Linked DNA regions of Homo sapiens. The protein of the gene in region 1 purifies or fractionates together with the protein of each later gene. This does not show direct contact. Each region holds a gene or a part of one and is shown in the gene's direction. Other genes may lie near its edges.

Region 1 (3,433 bases):
ACTGTGCGCTCTCCTGCAGACAGCCTCTCCATGTCAAGCTTCCAGTCTGTCAAGTCCATCTCTAATTCAGGTGAGCAGGCTGGCGTCCATGTGCTCACAGGGGTGAGTGCCCCACGGGGACCCCAGCCTGGGTGGCCTCTAGGGGTGCTGACCAGGCGCCCTCTGCTGGGCCAAGCTCCAGGATTTGGGGATGAAGGTGCAGCTGAAAAGAGCCCTGCAAGCTGAAGCCACCGGGAGGGGATTAAGGGGGGGTGGGCAGGACCAGGGACCAGTCACAGGGCAGTAAGGCCTCACAGCAGGCACCCCAGGGCGGGGCAGCAAGCAGGCAGGAGGGGCCTCCCCGGGTGGCCTTCTAGGGAGGATGTACCCTGGCTGCCCAGCAGCAGCCCTGCTTGGCCGTGTCCCTGCCACAAGCAGGCAGGACACAGGAGGGATGGCACTGCCCACGGAGCCCTGGGCTCATGGCACCTTCTGCAGAGTGAGCCGGGAGCAGAGAGCCTCTTTTCCCCACTCTGTGAGGCCGGGCATTTTCCTCAGCCCTGCCCTAACCCCCACCATTCCTGTGATGGGCCCAGGTGCTAGACGGGCCTTGTCCTTGCCGAGGAAACCCATGCAGGCTGGGTCCCAAGCCTCTCATGCAGTTTCATTTTACCCAAGATGGGGCCAGCTTCCACTATGTTGATTGTTCTAGAGTGTTCACAGGCACCACCCATGGGCTTCACCCTCAGAACCACATTGATTCCCCCCAGAACCCTCCAAGGCAGGCTTCCCTTTACAGAGGAGGAAACTGAGGCAGGGACAGGGGCTTCTTGGGTACACACAGCTGTTCCTGGAAAACTTGGGCGGTGACTGTTGGTGCCTGCAGTGACCGGCCTTGTAGGGTCTGACTTGCAGCCAACTCTCAAGGCAAGGCCAGGCCCCAGCCCGGCTCCTTCAACAAGCAAGATTCAAAAGCTGACGTCTCCCAGAAGGCGGACCTGGAAGAGGAGCCCCTACTTCACAACAGCAAGCTGGACAAAGTTCCTGGGGTACAAGGGCAGGCCAGGTAAGGCTTGGGTGTTCCTGGGGTGCAAGGGCAGGCCAGGTAAGTCTTGCCTGCACCCTAAGGGCCCCATGACTACATTTACTAGGCTCACGCCCTGCAGTCAGCCAACTGCTCTGCCCCTAGCTCCAGGGGCCTGTCTCCTGGGCTCATGATAGCAGATGACGGCCACGCTCTACCCATCGGTGGGCGCTGTCTTCCTCCCTTCCCCTGGGGGTCCTGCAGAGTACCTGTGCTGACCTGAGCCCACGAGGGGGGCCAGTAGCAGCCCCTAAACCACTTCCTCAGAGAAAAGTAAAGTAATATTCTTACCAAGAGAAGGCTTGCTGCCCCTGGCCACAGCCTGCCTTTGGAGGGCACTAGGCCAGCAGGTCAGAGTAGGAACAGGTTCTGGTGATCCCTGAGTTTGCGGGACTGCCCTGAGATGCTACAGAGTGCACACTTTCAGCAGCGCAACCAGCAGGACAGGCTCCTGCATCTGCACATCCCAAGACCAGGCCTGGAGCAAGATGCCCCACTGGGTGTGGGGTCACGATCAAGAGCAGCCTGGCAGCTAGCTGGTCACCCACTGAAGCCCATCTGACCCTTAGGGCACCTTCAGAGGGGAGAAAGGGACAGGCCCCAGTCCCAGAGACCCCCACCTGGTGCCCAGAGCACCCTGCTCAGTGGGAGAGGGGAACCAGGCCCTCTTCCCCACATTGGCCTGGGCGCTGCCTGGGGAGGTATGCTGGGTGGGTGGTTAGACGCACCTGGGCAGGTCACCTCTGGCTGCTGCAATGACTGTTTCAGAAAGGAGAAAGCAGAGGCCTCTAATGCAGGAGCTGCCTGTATGGGGAACAGCCAGCACCAGGGCAGGCAGATGGGGGCGGGGGCACACCCCCCAATGATCCTGCCCCTTCCCCTGCGAAAGCCCACCACACTTAGGCAGTGCGAAGTGCTCATCCGCGAGCTGTGGAATACCAACCTCCTGCAGACCCAAGAGGTGAGGCCCTGGGTGGTGGGGGTGGCCCTGGGCAGTCTGGCACCGCCACAGGCCCCACCATGCCCCTGCCCCTGCCTTTCAGCTGCGGCACCTCAAGTCCCTCCTGGAAGGGAGCCAGAGGCCCCAGGCAGCCCCGGAGGAAGCTAGCTTTCCCAGGTGAGTGCCTGGTGCACCCCTGCCCCATCCCTGGGGTCCTATCCACAGCTCACTGCTGACTCTTCCTTCACCCAGGGACCAAGAAGCCACGCATTTCCCCAAGGTCTCCACCAAGAGCCTCTCCAAGAAATGGTAAGTCCCACAGGCATGGGGACAGTGGGGCAGCCCTGCAGCCTGGGCCCCAGGGAGGGAGTGGGGAAGGGAGGGTGGCAGCGCAGAAGCAGAGCTCGCTGAGGCCTCTCTGTGCCCCCGTGAGGGCCATGCAGGCCGCACTCCCCACACACTCCACTCCCGGGGATGCTCACGGTGACAGTCCCTCTACCCGCCCCAGCCTGAGCCCACCTGTGGCGGAGCGTGCCATCCTGCCCGCACTGAAGCAGACCCCGAAGAACAACTTTGCCGAGAGGCAGAAGAGGCTGCAGGCAATGCAGAAACGGCGCCTGCATCGCTCAGTGCTTTGAGCCACCCCAATCTGGTCAGTGCCAGGCCCACCAACCTGCAGCTGGAGACTGGCTCTCTATAGCATTTCCTGATACTTCCGCTACTTTTAGGCCTGGCTAAATTCCAAGACAGATAACACTCAAGATAGATAAAGTACTTGATCTCCAAACTGACAAACTGTTTATTTTCTAGCTGTTATTTTGCTATTTGGCATTTACATAAAAGCACACGATGAAGCAGGTATCGCCTTACCTGTTGAAACTGAAAATAAAGCTTGTTTATTTCCAAGTTGTGTGCCTGGCTCCTCACTGGCTATCAGGCGTCGCGTCCCTTCCCAGTCCCAGCCCTTGGCCTCTAGCCCAGGCCCTGCTGTCTGCAGGGACCTGCCTGGGCAGCCCAGTCTTGCGCATCCTGGGACCTGCCAGCGGCCCTGGGAGATAGGCATTGGCAGAGCCATGCACATCCTCCCTGGAAGCGGGAGGGCTTTTCTGGTCCCCTGGCTGGGCTGGAGCTGCGTTCCAAACACATGATCACTCTGTCTCTTGCCCACACTGCACACTCCTGGGGGCAAGAGGCTGTCCTCTCCTGCCCTGACACAGCACCGCAGACAGGGGGTCCAGCCAGGCTCGCCCTCCTCCTCGGAGGGCTGTCTCGAGTGCTGTGGCCATGCCCACACCACCCCTTCCGCCATAGCACAGCCATGTCCATGTCGGGGGTGGGGTGGCCAGCTTACTGCCCACCCTCAGCCAGCCACACAGTCTTCCCAGGCCCACGGCCCCACTTCGTTGGCATTAATCTCAGCCTCTTCCTGC
Region 2 (3,654 bases), on another chromosome or scaffold:
GATGGGGTTTCACCATGTTGGGGAATGGTACCAAACATGTAGGCTTTTATCGCTCACCTCCCTCCTACCATTCCCCCCAAGTCCCCAAAGTTCATTATATCATTCTTAGGCCTTTGCCTCCTCATAGTTTCTTAGCTCCCACTTATAAGTAAGACCATATGGTATTTGGTTTTCCATTCCTGAGTTACTTCACTTAGAATAATGGCCTCCAAGTTCATCCAAGTTGCTGCAAAAGCCTTTGTTTCGTTCCATTTTATGGCTGAGTAGTATTCCATGGTGTATGTATACCACATTTTCTTCATCCAGTTGTTGGTTGATGGGCATTTAGGTTGGCTCCATATTTTTGCAGTTGGTAGTGCTGCTATAAACATGTACGTGCAAGTATCTTTTTCATGTAATGACTTATTTTCCTTTGGGTAGGTATCCAGTGGTGGAATTGCTGGATCAAATGGTAGTTCTAATTTTAGTTCTTTTTTTTTTTTGGAGACAGAGTCTCGCTGTGTTGCCCAGGCTGGAGTGCAGTAGTGCGATCTCGGCTCACTGTAACTTCTGCCTCGCAGGTTCCAGTGATTCTCCTGCCTCAGCCTCCCGAGTAGCTGGGACTACAGGCGCACATCACTGCACCCAACTAATTTTTGTATTTTTGTTAGAGATGGGGTTTCACCATGTTGGTCAGGCTGGTTTCAAACTCCTGACCTTGGGATCTGCCTGCCTCGGCCTCCCAAAGTGCTGGGATTACAGGCATGAGCCACCACCCCCAGTCCTTTTTAGTTCTTTAAGGAATCTCCATACTGTTTTCCTTAGTGGTTGTACTAGTTTACATTCCCACCAGCAGTGTAAAAGAGTTCCCTTTTCACCATATTCACGCCAACATCTATTTTTCTTTTTTTATTTTTTAATTATGGCCATTCTTGCAGGAGTAAGGTGGTACCTTATTGTGGTTTTAATTTGCCTATGTATGATAATCAGTGATGAGCATTTTTTCTTATGTGTATTGGCCGCTTGTATATCTTCTTTTTTTTTTTAATTATACTTTAAGTTCTAGGGTACATGTGCACAACGTGCAGGTTTGTTACATACGTATACGTGTGCCATGTTAGTATGCTACACCCATTAACTTGTCATTTACATTAGGTATATCTCCTAATGCTATCCCTTCCCCCTCCCGCTGCCCCACAGCAGGCCCCGGTATGTGATGTTCCCCTTCCTGTGTCCAAGTGTTCTCACTGTTCAGTTCGCACCTATGAGTGAGAACATGCGGTGTTTGGTATTTTGTCCTTGTGATAGTTTACTGAGAATGATGGTCTCCACCTCCATCCATGTCCCTATAAAGGACACGAACTCATCATTTTTTATGGCTGCATAGTATTCCATGGTGTATATGTACCACATTTTCTTAATCCAGTCTATCATTGATGGACATTTGGGTTGGTTCCAAGTCTGCTGGGCGAAGGATATGAACAGACACTTCTCAAAAGAAGACATTTATGCAGCCAACAGACACATGAAAAAGTGCTCATCATCACTGGCCATCAGCAAAATGCAAATCAAAACCACAATGAGATACCGTCTCACACCAGTTAGAATGGTGATCATTAAAAAGTCAGAAAACAACAGATGCTGGAGAGGATGTGGAGAAATAGGAACACTTTTACACTGTTGGTGGGGCTGTAAACTAGTTCAACCATTGTGGAAGATAGTGTGGCGATTCCTCAAGGATCTAGAACTAGAAATACCATTTGACCCAGCCGTCCCATTACTGAGTATATACCCAAAGGATTATAAATCATGCTGCTATAAAGACACATGCACACGTATGTATAGCTTCCTTTGAGAATTGTCTCTTCATGTCCTTTGCCCACTTTGTGCTGGGATTATTTGTTTTTTTTTTCTTGCTGATTTGAGTTGTAGATTCTGGATATTAGTCCTTTGTTGGATGCATAGTTTGCAAATATTTTCTCCCACTCTGTGGGTTGTCTGTTTGCTCTGCTGATTATTTATTTTGCTATGCAGAAGCTTTTTAGTTTAATTAGGTCTCATTCATTTGTTTTTGTTTTTGTTGCATTTGCTTTTGGGTTCTTAGTCATGAATTCTTTACCTAAGCCAATGTCTTGAAGAGTTTTTTTGATGCTATCTTCTAGAATTTTTATGGTTTCTTAGATTTAAGTCTTTGATCCATCTTGAGTTGATTTTTGTATAAGGTGAGAAAGGAGGATTCCTGGCATCCATGAGGAATAGCATTTATTCCTGGATCTAAGTTTTGACTAATTAATGCTTTTAACATTTTAATTAATGTGTTTAACCTCAAATGGATTTATTGAAACCTTAAAATATATGCAAAAATTATATATGCTAAGATTTTTTTCCCCTATTTTTATGTTACGTCCTCTAGATTTGAATTTACGTTAAGTGAATTCCAAAGTTAGGAATTGAAATCAAATTCCTTTTTTTAGGCTTATGTTTTTATTTCCACAGGTCCTGCTCAATCTGGAATTTTGTCAGATCGTGAAGTGGTAAACCTCTTTCTTCATTTTACTGTCAACCCTAAACCCCGAGTTGAATACATTGACCGACCAAGATGCTGTCTCAGGGGAAAGGAATGCTGCATCAATAGATTCCAGCAAGTAGAAAGCCGCTGGGGTTACAGTGGGACGAGTGATCGAATCAGGTATCTGTTATATTGGGGATGCGGGGGTAGAGTGGGGGTAGCAGTTACCATTTGGCCTTTTTTATATATTATGGGAGATAATTAACCAACATTTCATTTTATACTTCATTTAATACACTTTTAAGTTAAGTTAATATAGGAGTCAAGAAGTCACTGAGGCATCCTGCCCTCCTCACTGATTTATGAGTGAGGGTGACTTCTTAAGAAAAAAATAGAGTAAGAAAGGATTGGGTTGGACCTTCTGTTACGTGATTTTTTTGTTTTTCCCCAAGATGGAGTCGCTCTGTCACTCAGGCTGGAGTGCAGTGGTGGGATCTCTCACACTGCAACCTCCGCCTTCTGGGTTCAAGCGATCCTCCCACCTCAGCCTCCTGAGTAACCTGTAAGGCATGCATCACCACGCCCAGCTAATCTTTTTGGATTTTTAGTAGAGACGGGGTTTCACCATGTTGTCCAGGCTGGTCTCGAACTACTGACCTCAAGTGATCCACCTGCTTCAGCCTTCCAAAGTGCTGGGGTTACAGGGGTGAGCCACCACGCCCAGCTGTTACATGATTTTTGTTTGGATCACCACTGCCAGTGGGCTGAGTTCTAGACCTTAATTGATCAAACGTTATTTTTACAGGCTTAGGGCTACAATTAATAAATGTAACCTTACTATGTTTAGTGTGAGTTTTTTCTTTGCATAGATGTTGCAGGGAAAGTATCTCAGTATACATTTATAAAAGCCTTGAGAAAAAAATCAAGAATCTTGAAAAATGCATGCGTATAATCCTGTTGAAGAAATTGTCTTTGCTGTACTGTGTTTCTTTAGGTTGAATGTCAAAATAGAATCAGTGCCGGTTTTCACAAAACATGACTTTTGGATTTTCATTTATTTAATAGCACTTCAGTATAAAACTGGAAATTAACAAGTTTGTTAAAACAGAAAAATCTGGTTGGATGTGGGACTATTATAAATCTTAAGTTAACATGGAAATTAAAAA

The links. The genes of interacting proteins can lie anywhere in the genome.
Region 2: the proteins of CCDC74A (region 1) and BTBD1 purify together in Homo sapiens (affinity purification with mass spectrometry; one large-scale study listed by BioGRID and IntAct). This does not show direct contact.

What each region holds. Positions count from the first base shown.
Region 1 is NC_000002.12:131,530,758-131,534,190, forward strand, and holds the end of CCDC74A (coiled-coil domain-containing protein 74A), read left to right. Parts: coding exon of another isoform or gene 1-19; coding exon 20-70; intron 71-823; coding exon of another isoform or gene 824-849; exon of another isoform or gene 850-865; coding exon of another isoform or gene 866-906; coding exon 907-1,045; intron 1,046-1,831; coding exon 1,832-2,024; intron 2,025-2,106; coding exon 2,107-2,180; intron 2,181-2,255; coding exon 2,256-2,312; exon of another isoform or gene 2,313-2,317; intron 2,318-2,511; coding exon 2,512-2,641; 3' UTR 2,642-2,909; downstream 2,910-3,433.
Region 2 is NC_000015.10:83,029,150-83,032,803, reverse strand, and holds part of BTBD1 (BTB/POZ domain-containing protein 1), read left to right. Parts: intron 1-2,475; coding exon 2,476-2,668; intron 2,669-3,654.